Linked DNA regions of Homo sapiens. The protein of the gene in region 1 purifies or fractionates together with the protein of each later gene. This does not show direct contact. Each region holds a gene or a part of one and is shown in the gene's direction. Other genes may lie near its edges. The genes, in order: FASTKD2, NGRN and PTCD1.

Region 1 (7,753 bases):
CAATGGGAATCCGTTGAAGAATTTTAAGCAATGGGTTGACGTGCTCAAATTTGTATTTTAGATCACTGAATGAGTGGAAGATGTATTGGAAGAAGGTTAAAATTGGATGGAGGGAGCCATTTTTAGTCTAAAGCAAGAATGTCAGTGTCCTGTTTAATGTCACTGAAATGGTGCCAAATGTAAGGAAGGAAGGATTAGCTTGTTAATCATTTATGTTTTAAGAGTGTACACTTCTGACGTATAAACTCAGTGATAATGAAGTAATTTCTTAGCCAGGTGTGGTGGCTCACACCTGTAATCCCAGCACTTTGGGAGGCCAAGGCAGGAGGATCTCTTGAGCCCAGGAGTTTGCGACCAGCCTGGGCAACAAAGGGAGACTCCATCTCTACAAAAAATACAAAAATTAGCTGGGTGTGATGTACTTGCCTGTGGTCCCAGCTACTTGGGAGGCTGAGGTGGGAATATCACTTGAGCCTGGGAGGTCGAAGCTGCCGTGAGCCATGATCGTGCCACTGCACTCCAGCCTGGGTGACAGAGCCAGACCCTGTCTGAAAATAATAATAATAATTTTTTAAAAGACAGGAATTCCTTGGGGATAATCTGGCATATATCCTGTCTTGCTATAGAATTCAATAATTGGGTTCATAGCTATGGGAAAGTTTTTAACTTTTTACATTACTGTGATTTCCATATGTCCTTAAGGAATAACTAATTTTTATTTAGTGTATGTGTGTGTATTTGTTTAAACCACAGAATATCCCTGTTTATTTGTAGGCTGTGTATTAGTTCCTATGTAGTTATTTAAAAGTGACTAATAAATCACCTTACCTGGTCAGTGATGCTCTTACTAGATTTTGGACAGATATTTGCATCGGGATGACATCTGTGTTGGTGAGGTATGAGTAGTAGATTTTTGTAGTCAAAACATCTGTATGGATGATGGTGTCTCACTGACCTGTTGGAATAATGTAAAGACATTTTAGAGGTGAAAGGACAGTGTGCCATCAATGAATTTGCCCTTCAAACACATAGACAAGTGGTCTTTTCTTTCATAGTAGATATGGATGGAATGCTGTAAAATTGTTAAGGAAACCCTTTCATAGGAAAGAAACCTTTTTTTTCTTCTAACCATAACCATTTCTTATTATTACCTGGTTCTGACTTAAGACTTTGTGATTCATTGGTTATGTAATTTTAGCAAAAGAGCTTCTCTCTCTTCAGGCTAAGTTTCCTCAGATGTGATTTTTTGTGAGGTTTATAGACTAGTGATTAAACTGTAGAGTACTGCTAGTTAAGCTGTGTTGTTACTATTCACTTTCCAGATTATGCCCACTATTTCTGGAATCAAACTTAGTACCCTAAGTAAAGGGACCTGAAAGAAGAATCTGTGGGGTGTAGGCTTCCCTTGAGACCCAGATAGCAGTGGTAGAATGTGGCAGGAGATGTGAATCAGAAGACTCACAAGTAAAGTTTCAGCTTGATACCCAGGAAAGGATCTAGGGAAATTGTAAAGGCACAACCATTTAAGGATCTTTAGAGATGGGCTAGTTACCTTCTGTACTTCAGTAGTTCTTATATTCCTGCACTTTAACTGTTTTTGCCTTTGTAATGACCTTGAATTCCAAGAAGAGGTAAAAATAATGTTTAATAAAAGTTGTTTCAGAAGCAGTGGAATATAATAAATATCAAATGTGTTTTCAGTGATAATGGTGAAGGTAAAAAAGTGTTGATGCATAAAAGGATGTGTATCAGTCAGCTGGAAAATTCAGTAAGTATGACTTTTTATTTCCCAAAGATGCTGTTTATTGTGGACTGACTGTAGGAATTGTTGGTTTGATACTCAATCGTTTTATTCAGTACATCAGTTCAGTGGTTTTGCTTGGGTAAGATAGTTTACTATGGGCTCATCACCTGTAGTGTTTTTGTAATTATATTTCAATAGGAACGTATCAATGAGTGTGATGAGATATGCCTTTCAGTTTTGTCAACTGTTTTAGAGGCAATGGAACCATGCAAGAATGTTCATGTTCTACGAACGGGATTCAGGTGAGAACTCTCTTATGCTTTCTTCATGTGGTTTTCTTTGTTCCTCATATATCTGGAATAAAAAAATTGAGATGAAAACTAAACTCCTTTCTTGAGGGGAGGAGGGGTTGGGGAGGCTTTGTTGGTAGTTACAGTCTTTCATACCTTATTAAGCTTAAAATCCTGACTCTGGATGACATAGGCTGGAAATACTTCTCTTAGGGTCCATAATAACAAAGATGTGAGTAACATTGAAATCTAAATTAATTTATTTTAAAACATAGTACTGGCCAGGCGCAGTGACTCATGCCTGTAATCCCAGCACTTTGGGAGGCCGAGGCAGGCGGATCACGAGGTCGGGAGATCGAGACCATGGTGAAAGCCCGTCTCTACTAAAAATACAAAAATTAGCCGGGTGTGGTGGTGGGTGCCTGTAGTCCCAGCTGCTTGGGAGGCTGAGGCAGGAGAATGGCGTGAACCCAGGAGGCAGAGCTTGCAGTGAGCTGAGATCGCGCCACTGCACTCCAGCCTGGGCAACAGAGCGAGACTCTGTCTCAAAAAAAAAAAAAAAAAATAGTACTGATGCGGGGTAGGAGAGAATTGATATGTATATTTAATTCAGAATAGTTATTCGGGGACTATGTGAGGGTTGACGTTGACCCAGCTTGAAAAGGGATTTATAAAATTGATATAAATGATCTAATGTCATAGATTAGTGAGAGTAAAACTTAACTCCCTTTGACATTGACTATGCATAGGATATGTTACTATAATCTCCTGACATAATTTGTTCTTTAGTAAAGACAGCACAATAATGTGAGAGAAAATAGCACTATTAATAGATTGGGTCTCGATCTTTAACTACTTACACTCTCTCAAGCAGGTAGATCATTTCTCTGGGCTTCATAATCCTTGCCTGTAAGAAGGGGCTGGACCAAATGAAATTTTAAGATTTTTCTTCTGCTTTGAAGATTCTATGATTTTAATATTTATTGTGTTTGATAACAGAATACTAGTTGATCAGCAAGTTTGGAAAATAGAAGATGTCTTCACATTACAAGTTGTGATGAAGTGTATTGGAAAAGATGCACCGATTGCTCTTAAGAGGAAACTGGAGGTAAACACATGAATTTTCTCTAGTGGATGAGATTTGAAAAAATCTTTCTTATAACCTGCTATCACTGCCTGAAGTCAATTTTCTAGGAGGACATTGCTGGGCTTTTAGGTTTAGCTTCACTAAAGTGAATGAATAGAAGTACCCTTATATTTATTTATCTGTATATATATACATGTATATTTATTTATCTGTCTGGGTCATATTACCCAAACTTCATCCTTTTTGTTTAAAAATAAATGTTTAGGCCAGACATGGTGGCTCACACCTGTAATCCCAGCACTTTGGGATGTCAAGGGCAGGGAGATCTCTTGATCCCAGGAGTTTGAGACCAGCCTGGGTGACTGAGCAAGACCCTGTCTCTGCAAAAAAAAAAAAAAAAAAAAAAAAAATCAAAGAATTAGCCAGGCGTGGTGGTACATGCCTGTAGGTGGTGCATGCCTGTAATCCCAGCTACATGGGCGGCTGAGGCAGGAGGATCACTTGAGCCTGGGAGGTTGAGGCTCCAACCTGGGTGACAGCACAAGACCCTGTCTCAATAAAAATAAAAGTTTAATTTATTTTGTCACAGATAGTAAATTAAATTAAAATTTGTTTTTTCTTTAGATGAAAGCCTTGAGGGAATTAGACAGATTTTCTGTTTTGAATAGCCAACACATGTTTGAAGTACTAGCTGCCATGAATCACCGATCTCTTATACTCCTGGATGAATGCAGTAAGGTGGTCCTAGGTAAGAGGAATTTTTCTTTCATCATTTGCAATACCTGAGCTTCTGTTTTAGACTATTTTTGTTTTGTTTTAAAAACTTTGCTTTTATATGAAAAAAGAATAAAGCATGTTGTATTCAAAACAATCAGGTAATTTTTGTTTGTTTATTTAACTCATTCTTCAAGATAATATCCATGGGTGTCCTTTAAGAATAATGATCAACATATTGCAGTCCTGCAAAGACCTCCAGTACCATAATTTGGATCTCTTCAAGGGACTTGCAGATTATGTGGCTGCAACTTTCGACATCTGGAAGTTCAGAAAAGTGAGTACATTAACAATTTAGAATAAGCCTCACAAACTTTTAAAACACTAATTCATGTAGCATTTTAAGTATTTCTCTTTCACCTTTATAGTAGTTAAGATACCAAAATATTCCAATGCTGAATTGACTTTTGAAAAATTAGCTCCTTATTATTCCTGTCTGGGGGCTACTTGCTAATATGAATAGTCCCCAACTTAGGATGGCTTGACTTAATATTTTTTGACTGTTTGATGTTGCAAAAGCAATACGCATTCAGTAGAAACCATACTTTGAATTTTGAATTTTGTTGTTTTGCTGGGTTAGTGATATGTTGTATGATGCTCTCTTTTCATGCTGAGCAGTGGCAGCAAGTCGCAGCTCCCAATCAGCTGTGCAATCATGAGGGTAAACAATGCATATTGTATTCAATAAATTACTTGAGATATTCAACACTTTTATTATAATATAGGCTTTTTGTTAACTCATTTTGCCCAACTATAGGTGAATGTAAGTGTTCTAAGCGTGTTTAAAGTAGGCTAGGCTAAGCTATGATGTTCAGTAAGTTGGATGTATTAAATGCATTTTGACTTAAAATATTTTCAATTTATGGTGAGTTTGTTGGGATATACCCCACCGTAAGTCAAGGACAATCTGTATACTATTCTATCCTTTGGTCATCTTTCTATTTGAAACAAAAATTTGCTCTTCTTTTTCGTTTTAAAAGGGTTGTATGGGCTGGGCGCGGTGGCTCACGCCTGTAATCCCAGCACTTTGGGAGGCCAAGGTGGGTGGATCACCTGAGGTCAGGAGTTCAAGACCAGCCTGGCCAACATGGTGAAACCCCATCTCTACTAAAAATACAAAAAGTAGCCGGGCATGGTGACGTGTCCCTGTAATCCCAGCTACTAGGGGGGCTGAGGCAGGAGGACCACTTGAACCTGGGAGGTGGAGGTTGCAGTAAGCTGAGATTGTGCCACTGTACTCCAGCCTGGGCAATAAAGATCAAAACTCTGTCTCAAAAAAAAAAAAAAAAAAAAAGGGTTGTATGGTACTTTTGTTAGATATTTAGCATGATTTCCGTGTTTATACTTTGTTCTTGTTAGATTTCAAATAATAAAGATGGGTGATGTGACAGGCTTGGGGTTTTTGAAGAATAAAATGTCACTACTTAATGGTCATGTCCATTGTTTTATCCAGAGTAAAAGCCTTTAAAATCAGGAGCTGTGTTAAGAATATAAACATTTAATGAAGCACCTGGTAAAAACTTCTTTTTGCAATGAAATAGGTGATAACTGTTAGATCTCTAGGTTCAGTTTATTTTGGAGAGTAAGGTAAATATTGAGTTTACTGTGGAAATTGGTTATAGAAAGAGAAGTAATAATCCTAAGTAAGAAAGATTGAGAAGGAAATTGGAGGTGAACTTGAAAGTTTATTTTAATCATAATGTTTCAGTTCCATTTTCACTTATAGGTATGAATATTAAATATAGAAATTTTGGGGTTATGTCTTACATGTTAGAATCTAGGAAGTATTTAAGTTTGGGAATGCGAGAAGTTCAAGATTGAGTTGGTCATTTTGAAAACCTTCAGAAAAGGCATATTTAAAAGTAATTTTCAGATATGTTGTATGAAAAGCATGTAGGAAGAGATTTATTTTTAAATCAGATGGAAACGTAGAAATCATTGTATGCCCTGGTTCTCAGCTTAAAAAAGATTGCTTATTAACTTGATACCCAATTCAAGAATTAATAGAACAGATTTTGTGAGAGAAAGATGATTGTTCCTTTTCATGGAAATATTCTGTTTCAGGATATATTCTGTTGATCAGGACAGTTGAATTGCTGCTTAGATTTTTTGAGATCTAAAAAATTACTATTAGCATACTGTAATTATTATAGAGTTTTCCCTCAATTTTCTCTTTTTAAGGTTCTTTTTATCCTCATTTTATTTGAAAACCTTGGCTTTCGACCTGTTGGTTTAATGGACCTGTTTATGAAGAGAATAGTAGAGGATCCTGAATCCCTAAACATGAAAAACATTCTATCTATTCTTCATACTTACTCTTCTCTCAATCATGTCTACAAATGCCAGAACAAAGAGTATGTACTTGTTTTTTTTTACCTTTTTTATTGCCATATAACTTACAAAAAAGGTTATAAATCATAAGCTTAATGAATTATTACAAGTGAACACACCCATAGTCATCATCCATGCCAATAAATAAAACATAGTGTTCCTTACTCATTTATAAGGTTAAACAAAATTTTGTTTTATATTTGCTGCCCTTTGTCTTGTTTGTTTCTTTGTTCTTTATAATGTATTAGTTAATTCATTATAGGAGTTTGATTTCAAACCCTCCCAGCTTATCCTCGTAGCTCCTAAGTTCATAGTTTATTTTAACTGTATTAAAAAATGGAGAAATCTGTCTTTTAAAAAATTTGACTTTTTTTATTATGGTAAGAACATTTAGTAAATTTTAAAGTGTGCAGTACAATATTGCTGACTTTATTATTAATGATATAGTTAACAATATTGTACAGTGGATCTCTAGGACTTAATCATCTTGCATAACTGAAACTTTATACCTGTTGAATAGCAACTCCCCTATTTCCCCCTTTCCTCACCCCTGACAATCAACATTGTAATCTCTGTTTCTATGACTGACCTTTTTAGATACTTTATATAAGTGGAGTCATGCGGTATTTGTCCTTCTATGACTAGCTTATTTCAGTTAGCATAATGCCCTTCAAGTTGATCCACATTGTAGCATGTGATGAGATTTCCTTCTAAGGCTGAATAATATTCCATTATATGTATATATCACATTTTCTTTATCCATTCATCTGCTGATGGATGTTTAGGTTGTTTCCCTATCTTGGCTATTGCAAACAATGCTGCACTTAACATGGGAGTGCAGATGTCTCTTTGAGATTCTCATTTCAATTCTTATGAATTGAAATATATCCACAAGTGAGATCCCTGGATCATACAGGGATTCTGCTTTTACTAAGGGTTCTACTTTTACCAAATGCCTTTTTTTTTTTTAGCATCAGTTGAAATGATCATATGGTTTTTATCCTTTATTCTGTTGATATGATGTATCATATTGATTGATTTGCATATGTTGAACCATCCTGGCATCCCAGGGATAAATCCTGCTTGGTCATAATGAATAATCTTTCTAATGTATTGTTGAATTTGGTTTGCTAGTATTTTTTTTGAGGATTTTTGCATCAATCTTCATCAGAGATACTGTGCTGTAGTTTTTTTGTTTGTTTTTTGTTTTTTTTGATGTGTCTTTGTCTGATTTTGGTATCAGGGTAATACTGGACTTGTAGAATGAGTTTGGAAGTATTCCCTCCTTCTCTGCTTTTTGGAATAGTTTGAGTAGGATTAGTATTAGTTCTTCCTTAAATGTTTGGTAGAATTCAGCAGTGAAGCAGTTTGGTCCTGGGCTTTTCTTTACTAGGTAGTAGTTCTACTTTTACATTTTTCAAGGAAGCTTCATACTGTTTTCCATGCACCATTTTGTAGTCCTATCAACATTGTGCAAGGGTTCCAATTTCTCCACATCTTCTCCAACACTTGTTAGATTTTGTTTTG
Region 2 (8,623 bases), on another chromosome or scaffold:
GGCGGATCAGGAGGTCAAGAGATCAAGACCATCCTGGCCAACATGGTGAAACCCCATCTCTACTAAAAATACAAAAATTAGCTGGGCGTGGTGGTGCATGCCTGTAATCCCAGCTACTCAGGAGGCTGAGGCAGGAGAATCGCTTGAACCCAGGAGGCGGAGGTTGCAGTGAGCTGAGATTGTGCCACTGCACTCCAGCCTGGGCGATAGAGCAGGACTCTGTCTCAAAAAAAAAAAAAAAAAAGAGAGAAAGAAAGGAAGGAAGGAAGGAAGGACACACGCATGCACGCACAAGCTAGTGAGTGGCAGAGCCAGGATTCAAAGTCAAGAGGTCCTGCCTCAGATTCATGCTCATAATCAACATGCTAATTGCATAGTAAGATTATGGAAGGCTTTATCTTCTTTCTGCTCTTCTAAATTTTCTGTAATGAACGTATATTACCTTTTTTTCTTGTTTTCTTTTTTTTTTTTTTGAGACTAGTCTCACTCTGTCATCTAGGCTGGAGTGCAGTGCCACGATCTTGGCTCACTGCAACTTCCACCTCCTGGGTTCAAAAAATTTTCCTGCCTCAGCCTCCCAAGTAGCTGGGACTACAGGCACACGCCACCAAGCCCAGATAATTTTTGTATTTTTAGTAGAAACAGGGTTTCGCTATGTTGGCCAGGCTGGTCTCGAATTCCCAACCTCAAGTGATCCACCCGCCTTGGCCTCCCAAAGTGCTTGCATTACAGGCGTGAGCCACCATGCCCGGCCACTTTTTTTTTTTTTTTCAAATGGAAAGCTAATATCAAAACATATGTTACTTTTACAATCAGAAACCTAAAAAACTATGATAATGGACTGCTAGCTTACGAGTAGACCCCTCTCCACTTAAGATGAAAATCAGGCCGAGTACGGTGGCTCACACCTATAATCCCAGCACTTTGGGAGGCCGAGGTGGGTGGATCACTTGAGGTCCGGCCTTGCCAACGTGGTGAAACCCTGTCTCTACTAAAAATACAAAAATTGGCCAGGCATGGTGGTGCATGCCTGTAATCCCAGCTACTTGGGAGGCTGAGGCAGGAGAACTGCTTAAACCTGGGAGGCAGAGGTTACAGTGAGCAGAGATTGTGCCAGTGCACTCCAGCATGGGCAACAGTGCAAGACCCTGTCTCAAAAAAGAAAAGAAAAGCAAATCAGATTTCTGGAAGTCAAGCCTATTTTCATGGCTACCCACATGTGGGGCTAGCCAAAGATGGGCTTGGCAGCTTTCCCTACTTGGGCAGGGGCCCAGGAGGTCAAGAAGCCAGCAGGAGGGTCTCCAAACCTTAGTCAGTCTTCCTTTCCCTACTGAACATTCCCACAGCCCTACTCTTGACTCACTGAGCTTGCTTTCCACAGGAAAGAAAAAACTGAGTCATCCCATGTGGCAATGCTGGACCAGGAACGATATGAGGATTCTCACCTGGGAAAATACCGGCGGATCTACCCTGGGCCTGACACAGAGAAGTATGCCCGCTTCTTCAAGCACAATGGCTCCCTCTTCCAAGAGACTGCTGCTTCCAAGGCCAGAGAGGAGTGTGCCAGGTACTTTGACCGACATTCTCCTCTGCACACCTAGGTGGGGACAAGTCCTGAAGCTGCATTGCTTCCCAGCAGGGAAAGAGGAAGCCAGACACCAGCAAAGAGGAATGGAGCTATAAATCCTATCAGACTCTTAGTGACTCTTTTCAGTTTAGTAGGTTTCCTATCTTCCCCTCTCATTGCTCTCGCATCAGTCCTAAGAACAGATTGTAATTTCCTGCTCTTTCCTCATCCCCATTTTTCCTCACCCCTCTTCTCCCCAACACCATTTCTCTACTGTCTGAAGCTGCTGTGTCTTGTCAGGCAGCAACTAGAGGAGATCCGCCTTAAGCAGGAACAGCAGGAGACCTCGGGCACTAAGAGGCAAAAGGCCAGGGACCAGAACCAGGGTGAATCAGCTGGGGAGAAAAGCCGACCCAGGGCAGGGCTCCAGAGCCTTTCCACCCACTTGGCTTACAGGAACCGCAACTGGGAGAAAGAGGTGCCAGGGGTTTTGTAGCTCTTATCTTTCCACAGGAAAATGGGTTGGGACAACTAGATAGGGGAATGAATCTCTGCTGTCTTCTCCTCCCCATGCACAAGAGAGAGAGGAGTTCCTAATCAGTAAATTGAATCCGATCCTTTGGAAGATGAAGTGAGAGAATGGACAGCAAAAGGAACCTTCCTGGGTCAGGGAAGGGATGAGGGTAGAGTGGGCAGGAGGCCTGTAGCCATCCTGGGTGATGGTTTGGGACTTATCCTTGGAGATCCTGCATTTATCTCTCATGTACCTTGTAGCTGCTGCCGGGACAGCTGGACACCATGAGGCCTCAAGAAATTGTGGAAGAGGAGGAGCTGGAGCGGATGAAGGCCCTGCTACAAAGGGAGACTCTCATCCGAAGCCTGGGTATTGTAGAGCAGCTCACCCGTCTGCAGCACCCTGGCCCCCAGGGCCAGAAAAAACTTCATGAGAGTCGGGTGAGGGTCCCTGTGAAGTCTCCCAGAGGAAAAGGGAACAAGGGCTGTCATTCCAGGACATGGTGTTGGTCTCAACAAAGGAGGCTTGTGTGATGGTATCTGTCAGTGGAGCCTGGGAAAGCAGAGTGCGCTAGCTGGACCTTGGGAGAGGGTCTGTTGATTCCTTTTGCGTCTGTTCCCAAGCTCCTTTGTTTTAGATATGACATCCAGCAAGTTGCAGCTCCAAACCTTCTCATTTACAGGAAACTTGCTCTCTATATTCCTGTCCCAAAATAACCCCACACTCATGACTGACAAATAACAAGCCCACCACCCTCAGTGGCTTCTGTATAATTTTCTCCCTAGCACTGCCAGTGCCCCAGCTCTAATGGGAGATAAGTAAACAGATTTGGGCCAACAAAAGAGCTGCCGCTTTCACTATTCCCTGGGCTGGTAGCAAACCTGTTGGGTCTTCTGTTTTTGTTGAACCCCAAAGGAGTATCTGGTTAAATAGTGGCCGCGGCCTAGAAGAGATTTTTTTCAGTTACCTCCTTCTTCCAACGCTCCATCCAAACTTACATAAAAATGTGGTAAGGGGCTGCTCTTCTCCTCTAGCCTAGATTTTGCTAGGACAGGCTGGGCAGTCAAGAACTGAAATCTATGAGTCTGGTCCTACTGGTGCTCCTAAGAGGGGCTGCCACAGAGCAGGGCGCTCCTCATTTCCTGCATCCAGTTCTGCCCCATGAATCAATCCCCAGGATCTTAGGGGCACTGCCAAGCATGAATGCTGCAATCCCACATGTTCCCCGGTACCATCTGCAGCCCAAGAACTTCAACTGGACAGGAGAGCCGGCAGCCATCAACTCCTGTTCATTGTCAATGAAGAAGGCTGGGAGGTGCTATTTTTCCAGTGCCAGAATCAGGCTCACTAGCCGTAAGTATGCAAAACTAGCTTTGGTCATTTTGACATATGTAAATCCCACTAGCAAGCATAGAGCTTGGATGCCCCTAAAATATAATATGGCACTTCCACCAGTGTAAGAATGGGGAAGTTAGGGTACCCATTTATTTACTCCTTTTTTTTTGAGACAAGGTCACGCTCTGTCGCCAAGGCTGAAGTACAATGGCTTGATCTCACTTCACTGCAAACTCCACTCACGGGCTCAAGTAATTCTCCTGACTCAGCCTCCTGAGTAGCTGGGACTATAGGCACACACCACCATGCTCGGCTAACTTTTGTATATTTTGTTTTTGCCACGTAGCCCAGGCTGGTCTTGAACTCCTGATCCACCTGAATCAGTCTCCCAAAGTGCTAGGATTACAGGTGTAAGCCACCGCACCAGGCCTATTTAATCCTTTCTGTACACTAGACCCTGGTGATAGAAATGGCAGAAATACAGTCCCAGCACTCAAGAGGTAATAGGAACATGGACAAAAAGACATACCATACCAATTACAATACAGTGTGGGAAAGACAGTGGAGGGAAGCATGAGATGCCCTTCCTCTGTGTTGGTAATTGGGCCACAGTTGGGAAAGAGGTGAACAAATCTCTTCTGTGAATACCAACTCAGGGACATCCATGTTTCCACTGCAGAAGGACAAGCCAGCAGAAGGCTAGAAGCCATAAACCGAGTCCTGGCAGGATCAGTGCCACCCACTTTAACCCCAAAGCAGGGCTATTTTCTGCAACCGGAAAGAGTGGCATCTGACTCATGGACTGAATGCACCTTGCCCTCCATGGTAAACTCTGAACACAGAGCAGCCAAGGTTCCCCTCTGCCCTGCGTCTGCACCCATGCTGCAGCGTTCCAGAGCACTCCTCAACATCAATCAGTTCAGGTAAAAGCAGGAGGGAAGCACTCTACCTCTCCTGGATAACCTCCCCAGGTTTCCAAAGGGCATTAAATCTTTGCTAAATGAATGACTGCCACCAAGTTCCACTTTGAAAAGCCCTGCCCAGGAACCCCATTTGTATAAGGCAAAATACAAAGACACCAAGAATTCCTCAATACCCTAAGATTAATTGGGGATCGGTAAAGACTAGAAGATGAAGAGGCGCCAAGGCCAGCCATGTACTCATTTCTGCTCATCAAGCCTTAGCCTGGGTTTATCGCTAGGTGATGGGTCTGAACCCTAGGTGCGGCCCGGGGCTGGAGGCCATCCAGGAGACAATGAGCCCCTTTCCCAGAGAAGCCGAGTGCCCAAGGCACTGGGCTGTCGCCGTCAGAAGACTGCCGAGCGGAAGCCCTGCCCACCGAGGTGGCGGAGACAGGCAGGCCTGGGCAGCCGCTGGGGCGGAGGGACGGCTCTTGGAAACGGAATCCGTACTTTAATTAAAGTTTATGCAGTTTTCCAGGAGCGTCCTGTACCTCATTTCGGCCCTCACGTTTCAGGGAAGCCCTCTCCACAGTTACAGGCAGAAAGGGTGGGCCACTGAGCAGCGTGAGCCCAGATCTTACCCCCACCAAGTGAAGCGGGAAATAACTTGCTACTACCCAGCCTCCGGCCCGCCCCTTCCACTTCCGGTCTTACCCGGCTACTTCCGCTGCTGTTTCGTAGCCGACTGCTGAAGGCTGGTTTGCGTCGACATGGCGGTTACCCTGAGTCTCTTGCTGGGCGGGCGCGTTTGCGCCGCCGTCACTCGCTGTGGGTTCGCGACCCGGGGGGTGGCGGGCCCAGGCCCTATTGGCCGGGAGCCGGACCCCGATTCCGACTGGGAGCCGGAGGAACGGGAGCTGCAGGAGGTGGAGAGGTACCGGCTTCTCCCCGGGCCCTCAGCTTGAAGCAGGGCCTCGTGCCCCGGCGCTCCAGGCCGCGCCCCCTTGGCGCCGGGTGTCCTGCCGCTGCTTGCGCAGCGGCCCTTGTTTCTTCTTACCCGTTGTTAGGGGCGCAGCGTCAGGTGTTCAGCTCCCCTGGGACCACTGGTCCCTTCATTAGTGACGTATTTCATCATCAGTTTAGAGAGTTCGGCATGCTTACAGGCAGTTATTGTTCTAGGTGTTAGCTTTCTGGGTGTACGGAGCAGCTCTAAGCCGGCAACATGGCCCGGTTGCCCTTGCGATCAAAGAGAAGAGGGCTGGGCGCTCCATGATTTAGCCTGAGGCTCTTCAAACATCCATTCTGCTTCCACGCATGGCTTCTGCCATTGGTTCTCTTCCCCCAGCACCCTGAAACGACAGAAACAAGCAATCCGATTCCAGAAAATTCGGAGGCAAATGGAGGCGCCTGGTGCCCCGCCCAGGACCCTGACGTGGGAAGCCATGGAGCAGATACGGTGAGACTCAGGATACCTTGTTTGTATCCGCTGTGATGAGAAGTGAAGGATGCTGGAGCCCAGAAACGGGTTTGGCTTTTTTGATACTGCTTTTATATTTTCGTTTACTTTTTGTCGTTGAAATTTATTATCAGAAAAGTAGAGTAATATAACGAACTTCCCTAACCCTGTCATTATCTAGATTTAATAGTGTTTTGTTTTGTTTTTTAAAGAGACGGGGTTTCGCTATCGCCTCGAACTCCAGACCTCAAGTGATTCTCCCGCCTCGGCCTCTCAGAGTGCTGGGATTACAGGCATGAGCCACTGCGCCCCGCCTGGTTTTAATAGTTTTTAACGTTATGACGTGGTTGGTTCATTTTTACTGAAATTTTTAAATAGTAAATCGCAGACATCACAACATTTAACCCTTGAATGTAGGTTGTGACGTTCCCAACCTAAGGTACAGGGATGCTGGTGCTTCCATAGGTAGGTGCATTTTTCTGAAGACAGGATCTATAATTTAGGAAAGCTTAAAAGAGTTTTTAAGTTTTTTTGTTTTGAGTAGGTAAAGTATTACATATGGCTCAACCTAACAGTATAACATGGTATACACATTGAGAATTATTTGTCCCACCCACTCTCCTGTGGGTACTTTTTTTTTTTTTTTTTGGTAGTTGGGGGTCTCACTCTGTCGCCAAGGCTGGAGTACAATGATGTGATCACCGGTCACTGCAGCCTCTACCTCCTGGGCCCAAGCCATCCTCCCACTTCGTCCTCCCAAGTAGCTGGGACTACAGGTGCATGCCACCATGCTTGGTTAATTTTGTTTATTTTTTGTAGAGATAGCCTCATCATGTTGCCCATGCTAGTCTCCAATTCCCAGGGCTCAAGCGATCATCCCACCTCAGCCTCCTAAAGTGTTGGGATTACAGGCATGAGCCACTGTGTGCAGCTGTACTATTTTTAATAGTTTTTCTCTACCAAAAACTAGGCTCTGTGCCCTGAGTGAGCCACTGCGCCTGGCCCTCAATTCTTTTTTTATAGATGGTGTTATTATATTTTTTTGAGGCAGTATATGAGGCAGTATATGACAGTGGTTTTTAATTTTTATTTAAACAATTTTTTCTCCTATTTATTTATTTGACAGAGATGGGGGTCTCACTATGATGACCAGGCTGGTCTCAAACTTCTGGCCTCAACTGATCTTCCCATCTCGGCCTCCCAAAGTGCTGGGATTAGAGGCGTAAGCCACCATGCCTGGCCAGAATGCATTATTTAACCTGTCTTTTATTGTGGGCATTTAGTTGGGTTGTTTCCATTTCTGTTGCTCACTAATAGTGCCCCAGTGAATAACTACGTATGTGTATCATTCTGCATACCTGCCAGGAATATTTGTTATATACATTCCCAGAAGTAAGGTTGCCAGGTCAAAAGACAAATGCATTTGCAATTTGATAAATATTGCTAAGTAGCCCTACATAGATTATGTACTATTTTTCATTTCCATCAGAATGACTCTGGAATTGAAATTTAAAATAAAGGGGATTCTGTAGAGCTGCTCAAGATTTTGTGAGCCTGTAGCACCTTCTGAGTCCTCAGTCAGGTCTAGCTCCTCTTTTTTTCGTTTGTTTGTTTGTTTTTTGTTTGAGGCAGTCTCACTCTGTCGCCCAGGCCAGAGTGCAGTGGCGAAATCTCAGCTCACTGCAGCCTCTGCCTCCAGGTTCAAGAGATTCTTGGACCTCAGCCTCCCAAGTAGCTGGGATTACAGGCGTGCACCACCACACCTGGCTAATTTTTGTATTTTTAGTAGAGACAGAGTTTCACCATGTTGGCCAGGCTGGTCTCAAACCCCTGACCTCAGGTGATCCACCCACCTCGGCCTCCCAAAGTGCTGGGATTACAGGCATGAGCCACCATGCCGGCCTCTATCTCCTGTCTTCAACAATAGCTTTTTCAAACCTTCCACCTTCCTACTTATCTCCCTTTATTGTGGTCAATAAATGTCCTTTTAAGAGGAAAAAAAAAAAACAGTCCATTAAGTAAAAACTTTCAGCTTCCTGGTCTTCCTCTTTGCCCACTACTCTCAAACTTATACTCTACTCCCATTTCAGAGGAAATGGGAGCCCTTCACTTGTCTGGGACCAATTCTCTGTATGCTTTAGGTCATATTTCTCCCTGCATAAGATTACTCAAGGACCTCTGTCCTCAACCTAAAGCTCTCTCTCATTCTTTTGTTCCCAGCTGGTTCCCAGGGTGCCTACCCTTTGTTTGTTTGTATCACTGCAATAAAACTGCTCTCCTTAAATCCATCAGTGACTTCCTCAGTGCTAGGCTCAAAAAGACACTTTGTAGTCCTTAGCGTCCTAAATAATTCAGCAGCATTTGCCCTTGTAAAAACTGCCTTTTAAATTAAAATATATATATATATTTTAAATAAAGACAGGATTTTGCCATGTTGCCCAACCTGGTCTCCAGTTTCTGAGCTCAAGCGATCTGCCTGCCTTGGCCTCCCAAAGTGTTAGGATTACAGGTGTGAGCTACTGCACCCAGCTGAAACTGCTTTCTCCCACCCCCCCCCCCCCATTATTTATTTATTGATTGACACTGATTCTCTCTTTTTTTTTTTTTTTTTTTTTTGAGACGGAGTCTCATTCTGCTGCCAGGCTGGAGTGCAGTGGCATGATCTTGGCTCACTGCAACCTCTGCCTCCTGGGTTCAAGTGATTGTCGTGCCTCAGCCTTCCAAGTAGATGGAATTACAGGTGCACACCACTATACCTGGCTAATTTTTTTTTTTTTTTTTTTTTTTTTGGATTTTTAGTAGAGGTTGGGTTCAGCGTGTTGGCCAGGCTGGTCTTGAACTCCTGACCT
Region 3 (7,753 bases), on another chromosome or scaffold:
GCCCTGCTTCCCCGGTGCCAGAGGTGCAAAATGGTGATCCTGTGAGCACCCACGATGGCCCTGTGCTGAGTATTTTTATATCTGTGCTCTTTTCTGAAAACCCAGCAGCCACTGTAGCCTCCATTCTACAGATGGCAGGGAGAGGAGGCCCTTGGAGATGGAATGAGGGTGGCCCCCGCCCCTCCCACCCTGCTTTGCAGTCGGCTTAGCCCCTCTAAACTCACCTTCCTTGAAAGCCTGCCACACACTCACCTGGGGACTTGTTCAACCCTCCCACACCCCCATTAGCACTTCTGCAGGTGCAACCCAGGAGTCATTCATTCATTCATTCATTCATTTATTTTGAGATGGAGTCTCACTCTTGCCCAGGCTGGAGTGAGCGATCTTGGCTCACTGCAACCTCCGCCTCCCAGGTTCACGCGATACTCCTGCCTCAGCCTCCCGAGTAGTTGAGATTACAGGCGCCCGCCACCACGCCCAGCTAATTTTGTATTTTTAGTAGAGACGGGGTTTCACCATGTTGACCAGGCTGGTCTTGAACTCCTGGCCTCATGTGATCTGCCCGCCTGGGCCTCCCAAAGTGCTGGGATTACAGGTGTGAACCACAGCTCCCCGCTGGAGAGCTTTTTTTTTCTTTTTCTTTTTAATGTTTTTAATTTTTTTTTTTTTTTTTTGAGATGGAGTCTTGCTCTGTCGCCCAGGCTGGAGTACAGTGGCATGATCTCGGCTCACTGCAAGCTCCACCTCCTGGGTTCACACCATTCTCCCGTCTCAGCCTCCTGAGTAGCTGGGACTATAGGCGCCCACCACCATGCCCAGCTAATTTTGTTTTTGTATTTTTAGTAGAGACAGAGTTTCACCATGTTAGCCTGGATGGTCTCGCTCTCCTACCTCGTGATCCGGCGCCTTGCTCTCCCAAAATGCTAGTATTACAGGCGTGAGCCACCGCGCCCGGCCAATTTTTTTTTTTTTTTTATTGATCATTCTTGGGTGTTTCTTGCAGAGGGAGATTTGGCAGGGTCATAGGACAATAGTGGAGGGAAGGTCAGCAGATAAACAAGTGAACAAAGGTCTCTGGTTTTCCTAGGCAGACGACCCTGCGGCCTTCTGCAGTGTTTGTGCCCCTGGGTACTTGAGATTAGGGAGTGGTGATGACTCTTAAGGAGCATGCTGCCTTCAAGCATCTGTTTAACAAAGCACATCTTGCACCACCCTTAATCCATTTAACCCTGAGTGGACACAGCACATGTTTCAGAGAGCACAGGGTTGGGGGTAAGGTCACAGATCAACAGGATCCCAAGGCAGAAGAATTTTTCTTAGTACAGAACAAAATGAAAAGTCTCCCATGTCTACTTCTTTCTACACAGACACGGCAACCATCCGATTTCTCAATCTTTTCCCCACCTTTCCCCCCTTTCTATTCCACAAAACCGCCACTGTCATCATGGCCCGTTCTCAATGAGCCGCTGGGCACACCTCCCAGACGGGGTGGTGGCCGGGCAGAGGGGCTCCTCACTTCCCAGCAGGGGCGGCCGGGCAGAGGCGCCGCTCACCTCCCGGACGGGGCGGCTGGCTGGGCGGGGGGCTGACCCCCCCCACCTCCCTCCCGGACGGGGCGGCTGGCCTGGCAGAGGGGCTCCTCACTTCCCAGTAGGGGCGGCCGGGCAGAGGCGCCCCTCACCTCCCGGACGGGGCGGCTGGCCGGGCGGGGGGCTGACCCCCCACCTCCCTCCCGGACGGGGCGGCTGGCCGGGCGGGGGGCTGACCCCCCCACCTCCCTCCTGGACGGGGTGCTAGCCGGGCAGAGGGGCTCCTCACTTCCCAGTAGGGGCAGCCGGGCAGAGGTGCCCCTCACCTCCCGGACGGGGCGGCTGGCCGGGCAGGGGGCTGACCACCCCCACCTCCCTCCCGGACGGGGCGGCTGGCCGGGTGGGGGGCTGACCCCCACCTCCCTCCCGGACGGGGCGGCTGGCCTGGCGGGGGCTGACCCCCACCTCCCTCCCGGACGGGGTGGCTGCCGGGCGGAGACGCTCCTCACTTCCCAGACAGGGTGACTCCCGGGCGGAGGGGCTCCTCACTTCTCAGACGGGGCGGCTGCCAGGCGGAGGGGCTCCTCACTTCTCAGATGGGGCGGTTGCCAGGCAGAGGGTCTCCTCATTTCTCAGACGGGGCGGCCGGGCAGAGACGCTCCTCACCTCCCAGACGGGGTCGCGGCCGGGCAGAGGCGCTCCTCACATCCCAGACGGGGCGGCGGGGCAGAGGCGCTCCCCACATCTCAGACGATGGGCGGCCGGGCAGAGATGCTCCTCACTTCCTAGATGGGATGGCGGCCGGGAAGAGGCGCTCCTCACTTCCTAGATGGGATGGCGGCTGGGCAGAGACGCTCCTCACTTTCCAGACTGGGCAGCCAGGCAGAGGGGCTCCTCACATCCCAGACGATGGGCGGCCAGGCAGAGACGCTCCTCACTTCCCAGACGGGGTGGCGGCCGTCTTGGCACTTTGGGAGGCCAAGGCAGGCGGCTGGGAGGTGGAGGTTGTAGCGAGCCGAGATCACGCCACTGCACTCCAGCCTGGGCACCATTGAGCACTGAGTGAACGAGACTCCGTCTGCAATCCCGGCACCTCGGGAGGCCGAGGTTGGTGGATCACTCGCGGTTAGGAGCTGGAGACCAGCCTGGCCAACACAGCGAAACCCCGTCTCCACCAAAATAATACAAAAACCAGTCAGGCGTGGTGGCGCGCGCCTGCAATCGCAGGTACTCGGCAGGCTGAGGCAGGAGAATCAGGCAGGGAGGTTGCAGTGAGCCGAGATGGCAGCAGTTACAGTCCAGCTTCAGCTGGGCATCAGAGGGAGACTGTGGAAAGAGGGAGAGGGAGACCGTGGGGAGAGGGAGAGGGAGACCGTGGGGAGAGGGAGAGGGAGAGGGAGAGGGAGACCATGGGGAGAGGGAGGGGGAGAGGGAGAGGGAGAGGGAGAGGCCCGGCCAATTTTTTAAATGTTTTACAGTTGTTTTGAGACACTCTCGCTCTGTCACCCAGGCTGGAGTGCTGTGGCATGATCACGGCTCACTGCAACCTCGATCTCTGGGTTCAAGTGATTCTCCCACTTCAGCCTCCTGAGTAGCTGGGACTGTGGGCATGCAATACCACACCCAATAATTTTTGTATTTTTAGTAGAGATGGGGTTTCACCATGTTGGTCGGGCTGGTCTCGAACTCCTGATCTCAAGGAGTCTGCCTGCCTTAGCTTCCTAAAGTGTTGGGATTACAGGCGTGAGCCACCGCGCCTGGCGTATTTTTTTGAGGCAGGGTCTTGCTATGTTGCCCGGTCTTGTCTCGAACTCCTGATCTCAAGGGATCCTCCCATCTAAAACTCCCAAGGTGCTGGGATTCCAGGCGTGAGCCCTGCGCCCAGCTGCTGAATGGGAGCACCCAGCTGACGTTTGTCTCTTCCGTGGCAGGTGTGGCGGCTGATGCTGAGTCTAGGGCTACAGCCGAGCCGGGACAGCTACAACCTGCTGTTGGTGGCAGCTCGGGACTGTGGCCTAGGGGACCCCCAGGTGGCCTCAGAGCTGCTTCTGAAGCCCAGGGAGGAGGCGACTGTGCTTCAGCCCCCAGTGAGCAGGCAGCGGCCAAGGAGGACAGCCCAGGCCAAGGCAGGCAACCTCATGTCAGCCATGCTGCATGTGGAGGCCCTGGAGAGGCAGCTGTTTCTGGAACCTTCTCAGGCACTTGGGCCTCCAGAGCCTCCGGAAGCCAGAGTGCCCGGCAAGGCCCAACCAGAGGTGGATACTAAGGCAGAGCCCAGCCACACAGCAGCCCTCACCGCAGTGGCCCTGAAGCCACCTCCCGTGGAGCTGGAAGTCAACCTCCTGACCCCCGGGGCCGTTCCCCCTACAGTGGTCTCCTTTGGAACGGTGACCACCCCAGCTGACCGGCTGGCCTTGATAGGGGGCCTGGAGGGCTTCCTGAGCAAGATGGCAGAGCACAGGCAGCAGCCCGACATCAGGACCCTCACGCTACTGGCCGAGGTGGTGGAGTCCGGGAGTCCTGCAGAGTCCTTGCTGCTGGCCCTCCTGGATGAGCACCAGGTAGAGGCCGACCTGACATTCTTTAACACGCTGGTGAGAAAGAAGAGCAAGCTGGGAGACCTGGAGGGGGCCAAGGCGCTGTTGCCGGTCCTGGCAAAGAGGGGCCTCGTCCCCAACCTGCAGACATTCTGCAACCTGGCCATCGGGTGCCACAGGCCGAAGGACGGTCTACAGCTTCTCACAGACATGAAGGTGAGTGGACTCGGGCCTGGGCAGGACACCCATGGTGCTCAGGAGCACTCTGCAGCTCAGGAGGAAAGTTTGAGGGGTCTGCAGACCCCCCACCTGGAGAGGATGAACTGTGCATGGGGCAAAGAGAGTGGGGTCAATGACCTTCTGGTCTTTGGTCCCATTTTGGGGGAAGCAGACCCCAGTGAGTGCTTCAGGGCTGGGCGTAGAGACACACGGATGTTCCCATCCGGAAGAAGGTGGCCGTGGGTTGACACAGGGCTGGGCACAGGCCTCGGCCCCAACACTCTAGAGGTATGGCAGGGATTCTCAGAATTCCTGAGGGGCCGTGGGCAGTTTTCAAAGCCCCCGAGGTCTGTGCCTCCCACCTAACCCCCATTGGAAGTGCTGCGTGGATTTCATCCGACCACAGCAGAGGCTGCGTCCTGGGTTGTCGGTGTCCCCAGGTCCATCATCCTCTGGCTGTTTTCCTGGACCCTACCGGGCTCACCCAGCCAAGGCTTGCACTTTTCTAGGCCAACCACCACCTGGTGACCGTGCGTCACAGGAAGCCCACCCCAGGGAGCAAGGAGGTGGTGTCTCCCACATCATTTTCTGCCTGAGTCAGTCGGTGTCTGAGAGCAGCACGAGCGTCCTTTTCCGCAGCTTCTTTAGGGCTGAGCAGAGGGGCTGGGCTTGGCTTTCCTGCTGGAGAGGGATATTCAGCACATTGTTGCTGCCAAGTTTGCCTTGCTGGCCCTGGCCGCTGGTCCCGGGAGCCAGCTTGATTGACAGAGGGTGGGAGCTGCTGGGTCCCAATGGCTGCCATCATCTTGATTCTACGATGTCCCTGTGTTCTAGAAGTCCCAGGTGACCCCCAACACTCACATCTACAGTGCCCTCATCAACGCGGCCATCAGGAAGCTGAACTACACCTATCTCATCAGCATCTTGAAGGACATGAAGCAGAACAGGGTCCCGGTGAACGAAGTGGTCATCCGCCAGCTGGAGTTTGCAGCCCAGTACCCTCCCACCTTTGACCGGGTGTGTGCCCCAAGCTCAAAAGCTCATCAGCTCCTTCACCATTGCTACCCCCTCCCCCCACCACCCAACCCCGGTTCTGGCCCTTGGGATTGTGTTGCCATGCTTGAAACTGTCCAGCAGCTTCCCTTAGGAGCAGTACCCAAGTCTGTAGACCACAGCCTGCGAGTCCCTGTCTGCGTGGCTCATCTCATGTCTCAGCCTTGCGTTTGCTTTCTCTGTCTGTCCCAGTGGCCTTCTGTCAGTTCGCAGAGGCCACCAACCTCTTGCCTGCTTCGGGATTGGTGTTCCCGCTGCCTCAGGTGGCACCCACTTTTCCTGGAGGTCTCTGCTTAAGTGGCCCTCAGACATGCCCAGCTGGCTGCCGCTCTGACCTGGGATGAAAGTCTCCCCTCCCCCTTCCCACTCTGTTCCTTTATGCCGTGTCCTACAGTCTTGGATCATGTGCTCATGGGCAGCCCTGGCCTTCCCTGTATCAGGCTTCTGGAGGCAGAGGCTGTCTGCTGTGCTCATCTGGGTCCCCAGCACCTGCACGTTGCTGGGTACTCCAAACAGGTTGTCGCTTGCTCAGGGACTGGGCAGGCAGTGAAGTGGTGTCATTGTCTGGGGTGAATACCTGAGATTTGTTGTGAGCCAAGATCGCGCCACTGCACTCCAGCCTGGGCGATAGATGGAGACTTGGTCTCAAAAAAAAAAAAAAGAGGTTAAGAGCTGAAGTTTAATAGGCGAAAGAAAGAAGAGCTCTCGCCCGGTGTGGTGGTGAAAAAAAAAAAAAGAGAAGAGCTCTCTCCTTGCAGAGAGAGGTGCCAGAGAAGTGGGTTGCCACTTCCATAGTGTAATGCAGAGGTTTTGTAGATGAGCTTGGGGAGGTGGTGTCTGATTTACAGAGGACGCAAAAGATTAGTTGGACCAGGTGTGCCATTTACATAGCATGTATAAAAGCTGGTGCCCCACCCTAACCTTTTATTATGCAGACAGGTGGCCATCGCCATGTTGCCTGGTTCTTTACTGTACACATGGCAACAAAGAAGGGAAGATGGGGCCCCCACGTTGAACATATCTGGCTCCCAGGTAGCCCTTTTCTGTTGGCACAGCCGCCAGCATTTACCCCTGCAAGCTTCCAGTTTGCTTATCTATGTCTGCAGCTCGATTTTTCAGGCTGCTCTTTGTTAGAAAAGAAATTATTTGGGGGCTGCTTTTTATTAAAAGGGAAATTTCGCCAAGGACTCTGTTGCCCTTATTATCTGCCTAAATAATTTCTTTCAACCTCCTGTATCAGCAGGAGCAGGGCAGAGTCATGGAATCTGCTTTGTCACGGCCACAGCCTCTCCCTGCTGTTCTGAGGCTATCAGGCTCTGGGGTTTGGCTTTTGGGTCCATCGAATCACACTCTGTGCTGAGCATCTCCGGAGCATCGAGAGCCACTATGGCTTGAAGCACAGCCCGGATGGGGCGGAAACAAGTAAATGGGCAGGGACACACACAGCTAGAGGGTGCGGGGTCAGGAACGCCGTGCAGGTGTCACGCCTGAATGCCATTTTGAGGGCTTCCTACAAATAGGTGGGACAGCAATGGAAATTGTGTCTGGCTGAAGGCATAGCTGGGCATTTTTGAACTGTGTCTGTGCTTTGAACTGTTGGTTGCAAGCCTTTTCTCATTGATTCCAGGGTTTTTTATATATTCTGGGTACTGGTTTTTTGTTGATCACATGTTGTGCATATCTTCCTAGTGGATTGTCTCTTCCCTCTGGCGTAGGGCTCACTAGGGGTTCAACTCGACAGTCACAAGACTATCATAGACCTAAAGCATATCATATTTAAGTCACAGACAGATGTCCCTGACTTAAAGATGATTCTACACAGGATTTTTCAACTTTGCAATGGTTTTATCAGGATGTAACTCTGTAAGGATCGACTTTGTGCGGGGTTAGTTTCTACTGAATGTATATCACTTTTGCATAATTATAAAGTCAGGACCCTCTGCTGTGTTGCCAGCAATAGATGCATTTTCCTTTTGTTTTTTATGAGATGGAGTCTCACTCTGTCACCCAGGCTGGAGTGCAGTGATGCGATCTGGCCTCACTGCAACCTCTGCCGCCCAGGTTCAAGTGATTTTCCTGCCTCAGCCTCCCGAGTTGCTGGGATTACAGGAGCCTGCCACCACACCAGGCTAATTTTTGTGGTTTTTTTTTTTTTTTTAGTAGAGACGGGGTTTCACCATCTTGGCCAGGCTGGTCTTGAACTCCCGACCTCGTGATCCACCCACCCCAGCCTCCCAAAGTGCTGGGATTATAGTTGTGAGCCCCCATGCCGTGCCGCATTTTCTTTTTTCTTTTTTTTTTTTTTTTTTAAAGAGACGGGAATCACTCTGTTGCCCAGGCTGGAGTGCAGTGGCACGATTATGGCTCACTGTAGCCTTGACCTCCCAGGCTTAAGAAGTCCTCCCACCTTAGCCA

Evidence for each region.
Region 2: the proteins of FASTKD2 (region 1) and NGRN purify together in Homo sapiens (affinity purification with mass spectrometry; 3 studies listed by BioGRID and IntAct, with this or other methods). This does not show direct contact.
Region 3: the proteins of FASTKD2 (region 1) and PTCD1 purify together in Homo sapiens (affinity purification with mass spectrometry; 2 studies listed by BioGRID and IntAct, with this or other methods). This does not show direct contact.

What each region holds. Positions count from the first base shown.
Region 1 is NC_000002.12:206,768,149-206,775,901, forward strand, and holds part of FASTKD2 (FAST kinase domain-containing protein 2, mitochondrial), read left to right. Parts: intron 1-1,942; coding exon 1,943-2,046; intron 2,047-3,033; coding exon 3,034-3,142; intron 3,143-3,745; coding exon 3,746-3,869; intron 3,870-4,032; coding exon 4,033-4,172; intron 4,173-6,076; coding exon 6,077-6,249; intron 6,250-7,753. UniProt on the Homo sapiens protein: Plays an important role in assembly of the mitochondrial large ribosomal subunit.
Region 2 is NC_000015.10:90,260,625-90,269,247, forward strand, and holds the start of NGRN (neugrin precursor), read left to right. Parts: upstream 1-5,047; 5' UTR 5,048-5,088; coding exon 5,089-5,252; exon of another isoform or gene 5,253-5,663; coding exon 5,664-5,774; intron 5,775-8,623. Other genes in the region: tubulin polyglutamylase TTLL13, read left to right, coding at 1,382-1,567, 1,868-2,045, 2,342-2,521, 3,323-3,434, 4,096-4,343. UniProt on the Homo sapiens protein: Plays an essential role in mitochondrial ribosome biogenesis.
Region 3 is NC_000007.14:99,421,324-99,429,076, reverse strand, and holds part of PTCD1 (pentatricopeptide repeat-containing protein 1, mitochondrial), read left to right. Parts: intron 1-3,460; coding exon 3,461-4,282; intron 4,283-5,119; coding exon 5,120-5,302; intron 5,303-7,753. Other genes in the region: ATP5MF-PTCD1 (ATP5J2-PTCD1 fusion protein), read left to right, coding at 3,461-4,282, 5,120-5,302. UniProt on the Homo sapiens protein: Mitochondrial protein implicated in negative regulation of leucine tRNA levels, as well as negative regulation of mitochondria-encoded proteins and COX activity. Also affects the 3'-processing of mitochondrial tRNAs.